Regions from separate parts of the Homo sapiens genome. Here region 2 is linked to region 1. A link means that fine-mapping ties the variant in region 1 to the expression of a gene that starts in the linked region. Tissue or cell type: neutrophils. Region 1 holds a variant in brackets; the other region holds the start of a gene. All regions are shown on one strand. Distances are from middle to middle.

The links. PIP is the estimated chance that this variant, and not a neighbour inherited with it, causes the effect.
Region 2: it holds the start of IDH3B, and the variant in region 1 is fine-mapped to the expression of IDH3B in neutrophils (CEDAR, PIP 0.95).

What each region holds. Positions count from the first base shown.
Region 1 is chr20:2,904,059-2,914,088 of GRCh38, reverse strand. The region is part of intron 1 of PTPRA (protein tyrosine phosphatase receptor type A); the gene reads right to left. Among named protein-coding and RNA genes, the nearest start is that of PTPRA, 36 kb to the right of the region's middle. The variant A/C (reference allele first, on the strand shown) is at 4,227.
Region 2 is chr20:2,659,806-2,669,835 of GRCh38, reverse strand. It overlaps IDH3B (isocitrate dehydrogenase (NAD(+)) 3 non-catalytic subunit beta), which reads left to right and starts at 5,620. Exons shown (of 12, transcript NM_006899.5): 1 at 5,620-5,683; 2 at 5,831-5,911; 3 at 6,078-6,176; 4 at 6,270-6,390; 5 at 8,867-8,927; 6 at 9,007-9,139; 7 at 9,246-9,379; 8 at 9,471-9,573; 9 at 9,660-9,806. The coding sequence starts at 5,648. It overlaps IDH3B-DT (IDH3B divergent transcript), which reads right to left and starts at 5,562. Exons shown (of 3, transcript NR_186432.1): 1 at 5,230-5,562; 2 at 4,332-4,578; 3 at 383-2,328. RefSeq lists enhancers at 4,197-4,982, 6,556-7,343.

The DNA.
Region 1 (10,030 bases):
AGTACCAAAGTACACTAATAGATAACTTATTGAATAAAATATGAATCCGTAAGTCCATATTGATATAAGTTAAATAAATGGGAAGAAAACAGTTTTTCCTTTCAATGAAATGTCAATGAATGGATGTAGAAGGGATGATGAAATTAGAAAATCATCATTTGGCAGCCATCATACCAATAATCCAGCAAAAAAATTTCAATGGGTGCTAAAACTAGAAGGTGAAAGTTTGATGAGGAATGGGATACTTACATTGTCTCAAAGTACCTCCTCCTCCTCCTCATAAAATACTGATTATAAAGGAAAAAATAGTTAAATGTATGGTAGAGAAAACTGGCAGACACAATCTTAATCAAGTGACCAAGGTTAACATCAAGAAAAATGGGACACATGGAAATTATGTAGTACCTGGATGGATAAAATAAGAACACAGCACAATTTATGTGGCAATTCTGATAAAATGCATAATCTGAATCTAAAGATGAAGAAACATCAGGTCCATGTTAATGACTTCCTCAAAATAATGAGCCTGTAATCTTCAAAAGTGTCAAGGCGATCAAGTCAAAGACAGACATGACAACTAAATGCAATGTGTGATTTTAAACTGGATCCTTCACCTTTTGGGGACAACTAGAATAACTCGAATGGGGCCTGAAGATAAGCTGGTAGTACTGTACTGGTATTAAACTCCAGATTTATTTTATTTTATTTTTGGAGACAGGGTCTCACTCTGTCACCCAGGCTGGAATGCAGTGACACAATCTCAGCTCACTGCAACCTCCGCCTCCTAGGTTCAAGTGATTCTCATGCCTCAGCCTCCTGAGTAGCTGGGATTACAGGTGTGCACCACCAAGCTCGGCTCATTTTTTTGTATTTTTAGTGGAGACAGGTTTTCATCATGTTGGCCAAGCTGGTCTCAAACTCCTGACCTCAAATGATCTGCCCACCTCGTCATCCTAAAGTGCTGGGATTACAGGCGTGAGCCACCGTGCCCGGCCAAACTCCAGATTTAATGCTCATTAAAGTATTTGGGGCTGATGGGGCTCACTCTCTAATGGTTCAGGGAGCGAAAAGACTCTGTAACTATTCTTGCAATTTTTCTGTACATGTATTTATTTCAAAATAAAAAACAAAATGCAATTACGACAAAAAAAGTGCACACTAATGTCCCAGTATTATAAAAATCTAATTCTTCCTTAGTAAAATTTCTGGATAGTCAAAGTACCCCATTACCCCTACTTATTTTTACTAGCTTTTCTAATGAAAGTGTATCTCATTTTCATAGCATTCTGCAATAGAACTTTTGTGATGTTGGAAATGTTCTAAATACGTGCTGTCCAACACAGTAGCACACATGGCTAATGGCTATCATTTTGGACAGTGTAGGTCTAGAGAATAGCAGTTTGGTCACGAAAAATTAAAGAGCTTTTTCATAAAACATTAGGGTTTTTTGTCGTTGTCTGTTTTTGAGACAGGGTCTCACTCTGTCACCCAGGCTGGAGTGCAGAGGTGCGATCTCAGCTCACTTCAACCTCCACCTCCTGGACTTAAGTGATCCTCCTGCCTCAGCCTGCAAAGGAGCTGGGACTACGGGCGTGAGCCACCATGCCCAGCTAATTTTTGTATTTTTTGTAGAGACGGAGTTTCGCCACGTTGCCCAGGCTGGTCTTGAACTCCTGAGCTCAAGCAATCCACTTGCCTCGGCCTCCCAAAGTGCTAGGATAATTAATAGGCGTGAGCCACCATGCCCGGCCAAACATTAGTTTTAATACCAAACAGATTTTAACACAAATTAAATTACTTCAGTTTTTCTATACTTCTGTATATTTTCAAAATTTGTTTTTTGAGATAGGGTCTTACTCTGTCACCCAGGCTGGAGTGCAATGGTGTGATCTCGGCTCACTGTAGCCTCAACCTCCCAGGCTCAAGTGATTCTCTCACTTCAGCCTCCTGAGTAGCTGGGAATACAGACATGTGCCTCTACACCCTGCTAATTAATTTTGGTATTTTTTGTGGAGATGGGGTTTCACCAGGTTGCCCAGGCTTGTCTCGAACTCCTGGGCTCAAGTGATCTGCCCACCATGACCTCCCAAAGTACTGGGATTATAGGCCTGAGTCCCCATGCCCGGCCTTCTAATTTCTTAATCGAATCTGAATACCTACCTATTAGAAGCAACCATCTATCTTTAGTTTGAGAGCAGTCTTTTTTTTTCACTGACTTCCGTTTTAGTATACGATTTCCACTGATTGATATCCATGTCTTCTCTACTTCTTGAAATATGCTTTCCTAAAATCTAGGGGGCATGTACGTATCTACCCATACTCCCACCCTGCTCTTACATAGTTAGATCCCATAGTCACTTTCTCTCATATTTACTATTTATATTTTACTTTTATTCCCTCTCAGAGCTGCTACAGTGTATTTAATTGGTGCTACAAATTTATTTCCAGCCATGCTCAGCATAATATCCTCCTGATCAGATCAGACTATTTCAGGGCAAACACATTATTCCTTTTCCACATGAAATAAACCTATTTATTATATAATCATTCCAATATTTTAAGCCAAGAACTAAAAGTCAAAGACTAGTTTAATGACATCATCAACATAGACTAGCAGAGAAGAATGACAGCATGCTTCACATAGTTCATCAAAACAGGAATTTCAAATTCTACAACTCTTGATTTGAATACAAATGCAAAGGATTCTCATCTCTTATCATTCAGCTTAGTAACTTCAGTGAATGCAGTATCAGTGTGACTCACCTACCAGGTTCTGTTACTGTTCACTCAGAGCAAGAAAAAAATTGGTTTGTATACAACAGGCCCATGAAGTTAACACCTATGCCAAACATCATTAGAAACACTTAACAAAACTAGGAAAATCTGGAATCCTACCAAAAGCAGAACTATTTTAAGGAAGAGTTTGATCTAGAAGATTTATCCACCCCTTGCTTCTATTAATAAATATTTAAAACAACAAAAATAAAAATAAAAGCAACTAAAAATTCCTAACATCAAAATTATTTATAAGATAGCCAGGCAAAGTGGCTCATACCTGTAATACCAACATTTTGGGAAGCCGAGGCAGGAGCACTGTTTGACCCCAGGAGATTGAGACCAGCCTGGGCAACACAGTGAGACCACATCTCTACAAAAAAAAAAAAAAAAGTTAAAATAAAAAGTAGGCCGGGTGCGGTGGCTCACACCTGTGATCCCAGCACTTTGGGAGGCCAAGGCAGGTGGATCATGAGGTCCGGAGATCGAGACCATCCTGGCTAACACAGTGAAACCCCGTCTCTACTAAAAATACAAAAAATTAGCTGGACGTGTGGTGGGTGCCTGTAGTCCCAGCTACTTGGGAGGCTGAGGCAGGAGAATGGTGTGAACCCGGGAGGCGGAGCTTGCAGTGAGCCGAGATCATGTCACTGCACTCCAGCCTGGGTGACAGCGAGACTCCGTCTTAAAAAAAAAAAAAAAATTAAAAAAAACAAAAAAAAAACAAAAAAAAAACTAGCTGGGCATGATAGCACACACCTGTAGTCCCAGCCACTCCATTCCAGCCTGGGTGACAGAGCAAGATCCAGTCTAAAAAAAAAAAAAAAAAAAAAGTATATATAAAAATTATATATAATATATACTTTACTTATATATAATATACATTTTATATATTATATAATATACAAAATATATTATATATAAAATATATAATATACAAAATATATTATATATAAAATATATAATATACAAAATATATTATATATAAAATATATATTATAATATATAAAATATATAATACATATTATATATAATGCATACCCTCCACTGTGCCTTATATATATATTATATATAATATACAATACATATTATATATCATATACAATATAGTATATATATCATATATCATATATACTATACGTCATATTATATATGACGTATAGTATATATGATGTTATATATCATATATACTATACATCATATATTATATATATGTTATATATCATATATACTATACATCATATATATTATATATGATATGATATATATTATATATGATATGATATATGATAGATTATATATGATATATGATAGATTATATATATGATATATGATAGATTATATATATATCATATATTATAATATATAATTACACATATTATATATAACAATATATAACATATATATGTCATATATTATATATTATAATTAATATATTTTAATTATATTAT[A/C]TAATATATATTATCTTATATTATATATATTATCTAATATATATTATCTTATATTATATATATTATCTAATATATATTATATTATCTTATAATATATATTATATATTATGTAATATATAATATATAATTTATATATAAGTGAAACGGAAAAATTATATGAAATTCAAACTTCTGCATCCATAAATAAGAAAGAATGTAGCTGCACTCATTCATTTACTATTGTCTGTGGCTGGCTTCAGACAATCTTTTGTAGTTTTCGTTTGTTTTGTTTTGGTTTTTTTTGGAGATGGAGTCTCACTCTCATCCAGGCTGGAGTGCAGTGGCATGATCTTGGCTCACTGCAACCTCCGCCTCCTGGGTTGAAGCAATTCTCCTGCCTCAGCCTCCCGAGTAGCTGGGATTATAGGTGTGAGCCACCACACCAACTAATTTCTGTATTTTTAGTAGAGACGTGGTTTCGCCATGTTGGCCCAGCTGGTCTCAAACTCCTGACCTCAGCCTCAGCCTCCCAAAGTGCTGGGATTTACAAGCATGAGCCACCGCACCAGGCCTGTTTTGTTTTGTTTTGTTTTTTGAGACAGGATTTCGCTCCATCACTCAGGCTAGAGTGCAGTGGTGCAATCACAGCTAACTGCAACCTCGACCTCCCAGACTCAAGGGATCTTCCCTCTCAATCTTTTGAAGGTTAAATAATGTACATTATACAGTCTGACACAGTGCCTTACACATAACTACTTAATAAATGGTACTTACATGTTATTATTCTGATCCTTGTTGAACTGCTTTTTGATGTGTTCTGGTTATCCATAATTGGTAATCAGCCACTGTACTGACTGGCAGAGTGGAGTGGCTTATATAGCTTTCCACTGCTGCTCAGTATCCCACAAATCACAGTCACAAAGTTATAACTCAACAGCATGTTTGGTGCCACACATGCATATTGTCATACTGTGACATTTTATTTTTTATTAATGCATAACTGTTATCAGTAACTAAAAGTCGTTATTATTTTGACATTTTATTAGTACATAACTATCATTAGTTATTAGTGCATAACCATCATGTCGAAACAAAAACAAATGCACTTTGAATGTCATGTTTTTCATTTTTTTTAATTTTGTATTTTTTTAAAACTAGAGATGGACTCTCACTATGTTGCCAAGGCTGGTCTTGAACTCCTGGGCTCAAGCAATCCTCCCACCCTGGCCTCCAAAAGTGCTGGGATTACAAGTGTGAGCCACCACACCCAGCCTGAATGTCATGCTTTTAAGGCACAGTGGAGGGTATGCATTATTTTATCAAGACAAGATAGGGAAGCATTTTGTTTATTATGCAATGACTCTACGGTCATCCCTTGGTATCTGTGGATCAACCGTGGATACCAAAATCTATGCACACTCAAGTCCCACAGTGGCCCAGAGGATACAAAAATTTCACTGTTCTGTATCTGGGGGTTTCCTCAAATAACGTATTTTTGATCCACGTTTGGTTGTATATGTATAAACTGCTGATTGTATTTATTGAAAAAAAATTCTCATATAATTGGACCTGTGCAGTTTGAAACTGCGTTGTTCAAGGAGTCAACTGTCTGTCTGTGCTAAAAGAATTCAAAATACATCAATGTTACCAAACTAAGGACCGATCACAGTATTTCCGATTCACAGGAAAGCAATGGTCAGAAAAATTTGAAAATTTAAAGTGGAATATTTCATTACAGCAAGGAGGGAAGGTAAGGAATAGAAAGTTTGTAAAGGAGGGAAGTTTCTAAGTAGCTCATTTGTTAGCAAAGCAAGAAAAGTAATATTCTAGTGATAAGTGAATTAAATCATGAAGAAGCTGAAGAAATGTATCCAGAGAAAATAAACTTGTTTAAGAGTATTAATTAGCCTTTCTCTAGGCTTTCTCCAGACAGGTAACAAAAAAATTATTTTTTAAATTTAATATAAGATAATTTAAAAAGAAAAAAAGACTATTAGCCTTTCAACAAAATCATTTGCTCTAAAAGTCGAAAATATTAGGAGCAAGATCAATAATCTGTTTAAAAAAAAAACCAAGGCAATTGAGGTTAAGTAGATTTCCATCTCTTTTGAATGAGTTTGATAGATGTTACAACACTGTTCAGATGTTTATTCAAGGAGTCAGTGCCAAGTTTAAAACAACTGAAGAATTAGCTTCTATGAATAGTCTGTGTTGAACAACTACAAACAAGAAGGTGAAAAAGTACTAATTCCATATAACCTAAAGTGGAATCTCAGATACGTTATCATTGATAATGGTAAAAATATGTGTGAAGCAGAAAAAGGCTTAGTTGGGTGATTTATAAAACGTGAAAATGTAAGGTGGTTATTCATGTTTTTTATCAATAGATATTCTATGAAAAATATCTGAATTTATCATGAATTATTAAACCAACCATGTTAATGGTGAATTTCATTCACTGCCATGGGCTTAACCATTGTCAGAAACAGAAGCTGAATAACCTGACTTGCCCAGGCACACAGCAGTTTGACGGCTGAGCTGTACTAAAGTTTTATCATGCTTTTTTTTTTTTCTTTTCAGCTTGGAACTGAGATTGAAATTTTTCACAACAATAAGACTGCTTTCAGACACTATGATCAAACAATAAATGGCTTTGAGAATTAGCTTTTGCTAATTTTATAATAGTAAATTCAACTTAAAATTACAGGACAGAACAACACTTATATATGAAACTTAAACTGTTGTTATTTAGACAACTAACTTTTGAATCATAAGCAACGTTGAGCTGCTTTATACACTTTACATGCTATCAAAAGTTAAAACAAGAAGTGAGATCTCCATTCCCAAACAAATTTGCAGTGGATATAGTTTCTTAGCTCACACTACATTTCCAGAATAATTTTTAGGACCTTAATGCACAAGGAAATATCTATATTTCAGTATCTATTTAACAGTGCAATTGTGGAGCTTCTGTCTAACCTTCCATTGGAAGTAATTAAGCAGCAATGAATAATATACTAAAAGGTAAATGTTATAAGAAAAACCTAATTCTATAAATGCTTCCTGAGTTATTAATATGCTCAATTAAAATCATATGTTTATGGGCTGGTATCAATTATTTGACATGTATGTGTGAAGACATGTCAAAGATGAAATATATAAAACCTCATTACAGACCTGCATTAATAGATAAATACTTGCAATCAATTTTGATGATTATTTATTGAATAGGAAGCACTAACTCTGAACTCCAATTAAGAAAATGTTATCACTCCGAAAAGAACTCCATTCTTCTCATTAGTATACCTGTATTTCAATAAATTGTGTTTATTATTTTGAATTTAATCAATTAAGAAATTTCTCAAAATTTGTTTTCTCTCTTGTTATATCAGAACGTACGTATTACCCTTGATTCTACTTCAGCCTGCAAAATCTAAAATATTTACTATCTGGCCCTTTATAGGAGGATCAGATAATTACTTCTTTGGAGAAAGGTTTTCTTCAGCCGAAGCATATAAAAGCTTGTCCTCTATCTCCTTCTGGGATTGGTAAAAACTTATCTAACACAAATAGGACTCAGGGCTGACTGGTTACATGAAAAAGTACAGTATATCAGGTAATTTTAAAAATGTAACTGAAATATTTGATTTTTACTCAAAACAAATACATGTCACCTGCCAATATTACGGTAAAAAACCAAGGCCTCTTCTTTAAGTACATTTCTACTAATTAATGTTTCAAATGTTCTCTCTTGCATATTCATTACAAATATATCATATCCATAACCCATCATATCCATAATCCACATTTGTGATTTCAAATTTCAGTTTCTTTAAATGGAACAAGAATCTAGGCAACTGTAAGACAACTGAGTATAGATCGTTTAAGAATTTTACGAGGTCAGGTGTGGTGGCTCACACCTGTAATACCAGCACTTTGGGAGGCCGAGGCGGGTGGATCACCTGAGGTCAGGAGTTCGAGACCAGCCTGACCAACATGGAGAAACTATGTCTCTACTAAAAATACAAAAAAGTAGCCAGGTGTGGTGGCGCATGCCTGTAATCCCAGCTATTCGGCAGGCTGAGACAGGAGAATCATTTGAACCCAGGAGGCAGAGGTTGTGGTGAGCTGAGACCACACCATTGCACTCTAGCCTGGGAAACAAGAGCAAAAAAAAAAAAAAAAAAAAAAAAGAATTTTATGATTTCCACCCCCAATCTTTCAAAATATTCACGCCCACAATTAGTAAGACAGTAATTTGGTGAAAAGGGGAAAAGGGGATTTGTATTTATCCAATTTGTTCAAGATCTACAACTTAATTTTCCTAAAAACAACTACTTTTTGCAGTCATATTTCATTAGTTAATGTTTAATTAAATTATAAAATTACAGTACTAAATGTAACTGGCATAAGCAGATTTGGAACAAACATACTGACCCCTGGAAGTGTAAAATTCAACTAGTGAGAGACGAAGGCAAGATGTGCTAGAGAGCAGCCAACCAGCCATGAGTGTTCAACTTTTCTTAGGAAACATTCAGTATATTCTAGAGGAAGAATAGAGTGTGGTTATTTCTGTAATTTGATTATATATACTCTATTATCAGCGGTCTCCAATCTTTTTGGCACCCAGGGACCAGTTTTGTGGAAGACAATTTTTCTATGAAATGGAGGGGTGGAGGATATGGTTTCAGATTTTGGGATGAAGCTGCAACACCTCAGATCATCAGGCATTAGATTCTCATAAGGAGCACACAACCTAGATCCCTGGAGTGTACAGTTCGCAGTAGGGTTTGTGCTCCTATGAAAATCTAATGCTGCTGCTGATCTGACAGGAGGCAGAGCTCAGGTGTAATGTTCCCTGGCCTAAAGTTCATATCCTGCTGTGTGGCCCAGTTCCTAACAGGATGGTCTGTGGCCTGGAGGTTGGGTATCCCTGCTCTATATAATTTGGTGATTATTTGAATATAGTCTAAATTAGAAATCTTTACGTATTTTTCCCCAAACAGCCCACTGTTACAGGATCATTCTTAGTAATCGATCATTTTCTCCCTGATTTCTGAATGCCACTTTCAACATATTCCTTTTTTCTTTCTTTTTTCATTTCACTCCTTCCTACACACTGACACTTTCATATTCTAAATTCCTATATATATTCAGGTCTGTTTCTGGACTATTTTTCTCTAGTTATTTGCCTATTCTTTTTTTTTTTTTTTTTTTGAGACGGAGTCTTGCTCTCTAGCCAGGCTAGAATGCAGTGGTGTGATCTCGGCTCACTGCAACTCTGCCTCCTGGGTTCAAGTGATTCTTCCAGCTCAGCCTCCCGAGTAGCTGGGACCGCAGGCATCCGCTACCATGCCCGGCTAATTTTTTGTATTTTAGTAGAGACGGAGTTTCACCATGTTGGCCAGGATGGTCTCGATCTCCTGACCTCACGATCCGCCCACCTCGGCCTCCCAAAGTGCTGGGATTATAGGCATGAGCCACCGCGCCTGGCCAGCATTTTATATCTTTAAAAAAATCCTTCAGTAAAGCTTCATAGTTTTCTTCAAATTAGTCTTGCCTATTTCTCGTTAATTTGCACTCTCTCTTCTCTATTTGTGCATCATTTAAAAATTTTAAAAATTCTGCTAGTGTAGCACTTAACATGAATTTAATTTTGTAAGAATACATAGACTGGGCGCCATGGCTCATAACTGTAATCCCAGCACTTTATAAGGCCAAAGCAAGATCACTTGAGCCCAGGAGTTCAAGACCAGCCGGGGCATCATAGAAAGACCCTATCTCCACACACACAAAAAAATAAATAAAAATTGGCTGGGCATGGT
Region 2 (10,030 bases), 240 kb after region 1:
TCGGTGGCTCATGCTTGTAATTCCAGCACTTTGGGAGGCCGAGGCGGGTGGCTCACCTGAGGTCAGGAGTTTGAGACCAGCCTGGCCAACATGGTGAAACCCTGTCTCTACTAAAAATACAAAAAATTATCTGGGCGTGAGGCAAGAGAATCACTTGAACCCAGGAGGCGGAGCTTGCAGTGAGCCGATTTTGTGCCATTGCACTCCAGCCTGAGTGACAGAGTAAGACTCTGTCTCAAAAAAAAAGGCCCAATAAATTTAGTAAATTCATATTACGGAATAAAACAATGAGGCTGCTCATTCTCTAAGATATGGTGTCTTAGATCTCTAAGACATCTGAGATACAGTGTTGAGTGAAGAAGGTAAATTATAAAACAGTAAGTATATAGAGTATGAAACCATTTATTCCGACGCACACACTCATACACCAAAAACAATACTATATATTCTGTGTGTGTGTGTGTGTGTGTGTGTAAGAAAAGGGTTTTAAAGCGGACAACTAACTGATTCTGAGGTTAGGGCAAAAAGATTGGGGCTGTGAGTTGGTATGGTAAGAAAAAAATATATTTTAAAAAATATATATTTTTAAAAGAGGGTTATCTAATTAAAAGTACTAAAGCAAAATTCTATATTAAAACTAATGGAAAAAAAGAAGTGTTGCCTTTTAGGGGCTCTTTCTGGTAACTGATATCACCTCTCTCATTCTCTGCCATCTCTCATCTCCTGGTCTCTCTTGCTTATCAAGAGAAGACTATGTCACTTGGATCCCAGCTTTTCCCTGCCTCAGCTGAGGCCACTATCCTCGTTGACTCCCATGGTGACATGGATGCCTCATCAATATTGTGGGTTTGAGTCCTCATCTGCAGGGTCCTTGAGATCTCCTTGGCATCCACTCCCATTTCCTATCTGGGACTTCATTATCACCAGCATCTACTCCACCTCCAAAACCACTGGTGGAAGCAGCGTCCTCTCTTCCCATGTTACTTGCTCAACAACTCCCACAAGTACTACTCTTTGAATATTTTGGGGGGGTCTTTGATTCTTTCCTCAGCTGCCTGTTGATTAGATCTCTTCTGTCTTCACTTGCCTCCTGATCCCATTTTGCCAACACTCTCAACTCCCTTGTACCACTCTCTAGCAAAATATCACTTTTGGATGAACTCACTTTTGGTTTGCTCTCACCGTGAAATCACACACAATTGCACCACAATAAACTTCATGGTCACCAACCTCAACAGGGTGCTTAGTATTGCTCACAAAACTCTCTCTGTTTCTCTCGGACCTTGAACATGCACCAGTCCTACTTACTCACCAATCCTCACTATAACTCATCTCCTCAAATATATCTGCCCACCTCACTGTTCGTCAGCACGCTATGTTCACTGTCACCTCCGCAAGGTAGTGTCTGCCTTGGCCAGGTCCTCTTGGCAAGCTGGTGTATCCATTCCCCCAGTTGCTTCAGGTATTTGCCACTAACGGCTCAAAGCTTCCCCCTTCTCTGAAGGATTGGCCCTGGCCTATGCCATGCAGGGGCAAAGCAGGGTTGTTAAGCCTTGTCTCAAATCATGACAACCTTGAGTTGTCACTAATGCTCCAGAGCTCCCCAGGAGATGGGGCTGAGGTGGACTCTGGCTGAGGCCACATCTTGCTGAGCTCCTTCCCCTCCATATTCTGCTCATTCACCTTCTGATGTGTTTCTCCTGAGAGCACTCCTTCAACAGGTCAATTGCATAGAATCCCTGTCTTGGGCTCTGCTTCTAGGGCAGTTGATCTGAAACAGTAGCTTTGCTTACATTTCCATTTTCCCTGAGTGTAATCACTTCTCCTCTGTAATTCTGTTTATCCTTTCAATCACAGATCAAATTCTCCCAAGAAGCTTTTTCAGACGTTAATTTTCAAGGAATTGTCATTGGTTATATTACTCTTTTGATTGTTCATGGTTTCAGAAAAAGATCCAGTAGGCCTAATACACCAGAAATTCTGAAACTTTTGTGTGCAGCGGACCTCTTTGGAAGGCTGGTGAAGCCTGTGGAACCTTTCTTAGAAGAGGCTTTTAGGCCGGGTGCAGTGGCTCATGCCTGTAATCCCAGCACTTTGGGAGGCCGAGGCGGGTGGATCACGAGGTCAAGAGATCGAGACTATCCTGGCTAACACGGTGAAACCCTGTCTCTACTAAAAATACAAAAAGATTAGCTGGGCGTGGTGGCGGGCGCCTGTAGTCCCAGCTACTCCGGAGGCTGAGGCAGGAGAATGGTGTGAACCCGGGAGGTGGAGCTTGCACTCAGCTGAGATCGCCCACTGCTCTTCAGCCTGGGCAACAGAGCGACTCTGTCTCCAAAAAAAAAAAAAAAAAGAGACTTTTAAGTATATAAAATAAATAGAATTACAAGACAAATATGATTAAGACAAGCCTGGGCGACATAGCAAGACCTCATGTCTACAAAATATTTAAAAATTAGCTAGGCATGGTGGCGCATGCCTGTAGTCCCAGCTACTTGGGAGGCTGAGGTGGGAGGATCACCTGAGCCCAGGAGTTTGAGGTTACAGTGAGCCGTGATCACACCCTAGCCTGGGGAACAGACTGAAACCATCTCTCTAAAAGGAGAAAAGGAATAAAAGCTACCTTGTAACATACTACTATGTTTGCTGCTTTATTAATTCATTAAATAACACAATCTAGCATTGGGTCAAATAATGTAAAAATAGGATTAAAGTAAGTGATATTTTGAGAGATCTACTACAACTAAAATGTGGTATGAAAATATCTATACTTTTTATGATTGACAAAGTCAAGAGTACTACAGGCAGCACTGTAATCTGTGACCTGCATTCATAATGAAAGGAAATGCTAAACTTCAGTTAGAGGTTAGTGAGAATAAAGATGTGATTTTTGGTTTTTCCCCCATCCAGGTTCACAGTGCTGATTCCTATTCATGGACACCTAGGGGGTTCTGTAGATCCCAAGTCAGGACTCCTGTGCTGGAGGATTTGCAGGCCTGGGAAGCAGACATTCAAGTCACTCAGCTTCACACTGAACACTCAAGTGTAGGCAGCTCATCCATCATTATAGCCTCTTGTGCTAAGCAGAGGAGACTCCACAACAGTTAGAAGAGAACAAGATGGTATAACCTCCCTCCCATCCCCCAGGAGATAGGTTAAGAAACTTTTCAAAGGTCCTGACAGGATTTCTCCATTATCAGGCAGTATTGGTCAAAGATGCCCTCATGGGGACTTGAAGGCCAGGAGAGCTTGCTGAGTTCATGGGGAGAACACAGTGGCCTTCAGACAATAATGGTCTCATCTCCTTGGCCTGTGTCCACTGGTAACCTCCATCAGTTCCTTTCACCCTGGTGATGGCCACTTAGTGTTTTATCAGTTAGCAGATATTTTTTGAGTGTTAGGTGGGGAACAAGTCTGTGCAGAATTTAGGGATGGAAATGATGTAGTCACCCTCAAGAAAATTAGATTATTATCAGAGATTGGATTAAGATGGTACATCTCTCTTCTTTCTTATCCCACATTTCCTGACGTAACAGAAAATGTAGTTTTTTAAAAAGAGTAAATTTGGCGGGGTGCGGTGGCTCATGCCTGTAATCCCAGCACTTTGGGAGGCTGAGGGTGGCAGATCACCTGAGGTCAGGAGCTCAAGACCAGCCTGGCCAACATGGTGAAACCCTGTCTCTAATAAAAATACAAAAATTAGCCGGGTGTGGTGGCGCGTGCCTGTAATCCCAGCTACCAGGGAGGCGGAGGCAGGAAAATCGCTTGAACCCGGGAGGCAGAGGTTATAAATCTTCCATTTTTTTCTTAGTCAGAAGGAGAAATATTTGGAGAAGAAAAATAGTGACGAATATTAATAGTGATGTGGAAGCTGGGACGAGGGAGTCTATGGGAGCAAGACGGTGGTGCTCTCTGGTTTTGGTTGGTTTCATGGGATATATGAATGGAAATAGAGGAGTGTGTTATACTAATATTATATTAGCTATAATAACAGCTCTATATTTACCCAGTACTTTTCATTTGTTCAAAACTCTTACACATTACCTAGTTTAATCTTCTCATCCTACTACTATATAGGAGAATGTCGCACCTAAAGGATTGCAGAGGAGGCACAAAGCCTATGCATATTCCCCAAGAATAGAAGCACTGGGAATGCCTTTGCGTTGCCACCTTTTTGGCTGGTTGAGGTATATACGAAGGAGGAACTTATCACAGAGAACCTAGCTAGTGGTTCTTAAATTTCAGTGTGTATTAACGGGGAGCCTGTTAGAGATATATTTTCTGGGCCCCCATCACTGAGATTTGGATTCAGCAAATGAAGTATGACTCACAAGCCTGCACTTTTAACAAGAGCTCTGGTCCATCTGGATAGGTGATCCAAAACCATACTTCCAGAAGAGCGGGTGAGGCAAATCTTCCTGTACCAGTTTGTCTTTAGGTGTGTCAATTGTACACACCTAAAATCGTGACTGGAGGCCGGGCTTGGTGGCTCACGCCTGTAATCCCAGCACTTTGGGAGGCCGAGGCGGGCGGATCACGACGTCAGGAGATCGAGACCACGGTGAAACCCCGTCTCCACTAAAAATACAAAAAAAAAAAAAAAAAAAAAAAAAAATTAGCCAGGTGTGATGGCGGGCGCTACTCGGGAGGCTGAGGCAGGAGAATGGGGTGAACCCAGGAGGCGGAGCTTGCAGTGAGCCGAGATCGCACCACCGCACTCCAGCCTGGGCGACAGAGCGAGACTCTGTCTCAAAAAAAAAAAAAAAAAAATCGTGACTGTAATTGTTTTGAGACGGGTCTCGCCCCGTCTCCCAGGCTGGAGTGCAGTGGTGCCATCACGGCTCACTACGGCTTCCACCTCCCGGGCTTAAGTGATCCTCCCACCTCAGCCTCCTAAGTAGCTGGGACTACAGGTGTGTCACCACGCCTGGCTAATTTTTAAATTTTTTGTAGAGTCGAGGTCTCCCTATGTTGTCCAGGCTTTTTTTAGTTTTTATGATTGTTACTTTAAGGATCAGTCTGAAATTCCCTTTAGTCACACTTACACGCTTGAACTCATTTCTGACACTAGTTATGGGCCTGTCCTGGGGAGTTCAAGTCCGGGACACACTATTAGGGAAATAACTGTCAGAGCAAAGAACAAAACCCTGTAAGAAAAAACTACGAGGCGACGGGTAATACAGAGGTCCTGGGCACTCTCGGAGACTGGCGGAGAAACCCGACACACACCTCCCATGTCTGTACTGTATTCCTCGAGAGCCTGACATACAGGTATTCAGTGAGTACTGGTTAAAAGAATAACAAACGCATTGACACACAAATTTTAACAGCTTCCCAAGGATTTTCTCTCAATCGCTTGTTAAGCTCAGGTCCTCGTCTGATAAACATGACGCTACATTTTTCCCCCTAATGTTATTTTGAAGTTTCGACGTAGATTAAATATGGCGACTGAAAACAAAGCAAGAGACAAAGTGCTTGCGCATCCCATGACCTCCCCACCGGCAAGGAAAAGGAGAAACAGGCGTGAGCAAGCAGTGCTGGTTGGCGCAGAGAGAGAAATACCAGGAACTCAGTACAGGCCGGAAGTCGGGGTACGGGGCCGCGCCAGCTTCAGGCGTCACTTCCCACGCGACTTCCTGCGGGAAACATGGCGGCATTGAGCGGAGTCCGCTGGCTGACCCGAGTGAGGCCCCGGGACATGTCGGGCAGGGGCGGGCGAAGGAGCGGAGAGTTTGTCCTAGGGTTTCCTAAACAGGGCAAAGTCAACTGTAGTGTTCGGGGTCTGGATGTCTCAAAGCTGACCTTACAGGCTTGTGTGTCCCTGTTGCAGGCGCTGGTCTCCGCCGGGAACCCTGGGGCATGGAGAGGTCTGAGTACCTCGGCCGCGGCGCACGCTGCATCGCGGAGCCAGGTATGCACGAATCTGGCTGGGGTCTCTCTTACGACCCTGTCCCTTCCTCGCTGCTCCCTCCCCTGGCTTTTCCCCACCCCTCCCGGGTCTCCCTACTTCTCTACTCCCAGGATCCGTGCTCCCGCCCCAGCTCTATCTTTACTTCTCCCCTCTTCCCCCAATTGAGGCCGAGGACGTGAGGGTGGAGGGCTCCTTTCCCGTGACCATGCTTCCGGGAGACGGTGTGGGGCCTGAGCTGATGCACGCCGTCAAGGAGGTGTTCAAGGTGAGTGGCCTCGGGGATCAGACAGTAGAGGACAGTAGTGTGTTGGAAAGGACTTGGCCTTGACTGTGATGTTTTGGGAACCTGTCTCTGAAGGCTGCCGCTGTCCCAGTGGAGTTCCAGGAGCACCACCTGAGTGAGGTGCAGAATATGGCATCTGAGGAGAAGCTGGAGCAGGTGCTGAGTTCCATGAAGGAGAACAAAGTGGCCATCATTGGTATGTGTGCCCTCTTGCCACTTGTCCATGTGCCATTTAAAATCAAATGACCAAATGTTTATTAAGCCCTTCTCCCCACATGCTATGCAATTATATTAACTCCAGGGCAACCACCATTGGTATTTGGACATTTGTTCCTTCCCATTGGGAGCCCAGGAGTTGAGAGATCATGTCAGCTGTCTATGCAGAAAAGTTCCAGGGGTTCTGAGTCTGTCCTGAGGCTACATCAACTGTCATCAAATCTTATTCATTGCATTTCTGGAATACCACTTTTAGCTGCCCCTTTTCTTTTTTTTTTTTTCCCCTCCCTTCCTTCCTCTTTGTTTCTTCTTGCTCTGTCGCCCAGGCTGGAGTGCAGTGGCGCGATCTCGGCTCACTGCAACCTCCCCGTCCCTGGTTCAAGCAATTCTCCTGCCTCAGCCTCCTGAGTAGCTGCGACTACAGGTGTGCACCACCACACCCAGCTAATTTTTGTGTTTGTTTTGTTTTAAGACAGAGTCTCGCTCTGTCGCCCAGGCTGGAGTGCAATGTTGCCATCTCAGCTCACTGCAACCTCTGCCTCCCGGGTTCAAGTGATTCTCCTGCCTCAGCCTCCTGAGTAGCTGGCTGGTATTACAGGAGCGTGCCACCATGCCTGGCTAATTTTTGTATTTTTAGTAGAGATGGGGTTTCACCATGTTGGTCAGGCTGGTCTCGAACTCCTGACCTTGTGATCTGCCCGCCTTGGCCTCCCACAGTGCTGGGATTACAAGTGTGAGCCACCATGCCCAGGCTAATTTTTGTATTTTTAGTAGAGAGAGGGTTTTACCATGTTGGCCAGGCTGGTCTCGAACTCTTGACCTCAAGTGATCCACCCACCTCTGCATCCCAAACTGCTGCGATTATAGGCGTGAGCCACCGTGCCTAGCTGCCCCTTTTCTTTTGTCTTCCGCGCTTTAATCTCCTCATTTGATTTTTTTGGCTTCTAGTTCTGCCCCTATAGTTCATCTTCCATATCTCTTCTTGGAAAGAACAGCCTGATTTTCCAGGCCCAGCCTTACCATAGGAAAGTCAGTACTTTATAAGTTGGCCCTTAATTTTCTGCCTTGGTTCCACAACTCTTGTTCTGTGCTTCAATCACACTAGATTGTGTGTTAGATTCCAAATATGTACTACCTGACTTATATTGTTCCCTCCACCCAGAACGTTCTTTCTTTGGTGCTACCTGTTAGAGTCCTTCTCACTCATTCACTGTATTAGTTTCCCATAGCTGCCGTAACACACTACCATGAACCTGGTGGCTTATCATTAACAGAAATGTATTCTCTCACAGTGCTGGAGGCCATCAGTCTGAAATTAAGGTGTTGGCAGGGCCCTGCTCCCTCTGAAGGTTTAGGGGAGAAACCTTTCTTGCCTCTTCTGGTGGCTCTTGCTGTTTTTTGACTTGTAGATGCATCACTCCAATATCTGTGGTTTTCTTCCCTCTCTGTCTCGGTATCATTTTTCTCCTCAAATATTTAGCCCTGGATGGGACGATTTTTTCTCAAGATCCTTAACTTAATTACATCTGCAAAGCCTCTTTTCCCAAATAAGGTCACATACATAGGTTCTGGGGCTCAAGGCATGGCTGAAGTGCCAGCTCTTCTGTGCTGTATCCTGATATTACTGGAGAGGATTTCCTCTTTGTGTTGCTATGCAAGTTTCCCATGGTACTTATCATGTCTTTCATATTTTCTGTCTTTCCCAGTGTACCGTTTGCTTCTCAAGGGCAGGAGTTGTATGGTTTTAGTTGTTATCCTTATTGCCTGACATATAATTGATATTCATCAGTAGGTGTTGGGTTAAAAAATGTCAAATAAGGAGAAGGCACAGATAAAAAGATCACAGATCTGCTAGCATTGTTTTTCAACTTGTTGTTAAACCCAGGCTCTTTTTTGATAAATAGAAAAAATCTGTTCTCCGTTTTGAAGTTTCAACATAAATTAAATATGTTGACTAAAAATAAAGCATTAAGGCCGGGGCGGGTGGATCACTTGAGGTCAGGAGTTTGAGACCAGCCTGGCCAACATGGTGAGACACTGCCTCTACTAAAAATACAAAAAATTAGCCAGGTGTGGTGGCACATGCCTGTAATCCCAGCTACTGGGGAGGCTGAGGCAGGAGAATTGCTTGAACCTGGGAGGCAGAGGTTGCAGTGAGCCCAGGTCGTGCCACTGCACTCCAGCCTGGGCGACAGAGTGAGACCCTGTGTCTCTCACACACGCACACACACACACACACACACACACAGAAAATGCAATAGATGAAATGTTTCTGGCTTTAACTACATTATTCTCTTTTGTCCCTTGCCCCCAGAGACAATTTAAAAGTTTACTGATGTGGGAATGGGAGATGGGAGTCTGGGTTACATGATGTTCCTAAGGGGGTTAGACACTGGTCTGAGTTCCCTTGGGCTTGGCCTGTGGCTGACACTCCTTTTCCCACTTTGTTTTCACAGGAAAGATTCATACCCCGATGGAGTATAAGGGGGAGCTAGCCTCCTATGATATGCGGCTGAGGTAGGTGGTCTGGGTGGGGTGAATGGTTGAGAGGTGCCAGGGCACCAGGAGCAGAGCTGATGGCCCTGCCCACCCTCAGGCGTAAGTTGGACTTATTTGCCAACGTAGTCCATGTGAAGTCACTTCCTGGGTATATGACTCGGCACAACAATCTAGACCTGGTGATCATTCGAGAGCAGACAGAAGGGGAGTACAGCTCTCTGGAACATGAGGTGAGGCCCCAGAAACTGGGGGAGGGCAAGGATGAAGATGGGAGAGAGGTGGAGCTCCTTGTTTCCCTTCCCAGTGTCACCTAGCTGCTGCTTTCTTCTTACCCAGAGTGCAAGGGGTGTGATTGAGTGTTTGAAGATTGTCACACGAGCCAAGTCTCAGCGGATTGCAAAGTTCGCCTTTGACTATGCCACCAAGAAGGGGCGGGGCAAGGTCACTGCTGTCCACAAGGCCAACATCATGTGAGGGGCATGGCTTTGTGTAGGATGGGTTCCTGGGAAGGTAGCCCCTGTACTTTCTTGGCTGATTCTGTCCCCTTTGGCCCATGGACAGGAAACTTGGGGATGGGTTGTTCCTGCAGTGCTGTGAGGAAGTTGCTGAACTGTACCCCAAAATCAAATTTGAGACAATGATCATAGACAACTGCTGCATGCAGGTGAGGCCTCCCCACATCTCTACTCATGGGGCGGAGGAGGAGGGTGGGGAGTGGAATTTACTTCATGCCTGCATCTCACCCTCTAGCTGGTGCAGAATCCTTACCAGTTTGATGTGCTTGTGATGCCCAATCTCTATGGGAACATTATTGACAATCTGGCTGCTGGCCTGGTTGGGGGAGCTGGTGTGGTCCCTGGTGAGAGCTATAGTGCAGAATACGCAGTCTTTGAGACGGTGAGGCTGCTTTCTCCCTCGGCCCTTCCTCTGACCTCAAGTCCGCCATTCCTCTCCCATCCCAATATCTCCACTTCCTAAGTGATCTTGGCCTGTTCTTCCCCCACGCTGCCCACCATGCCTCTTTTCAGTGACCCTGGCCTGAGCTCCCCCTCCCATAATGTCCTTTTCCAACCTAAGCCTCTGCATACCCCTCCTGCCTCCTCCCAGTGTCTAGCCTGCCC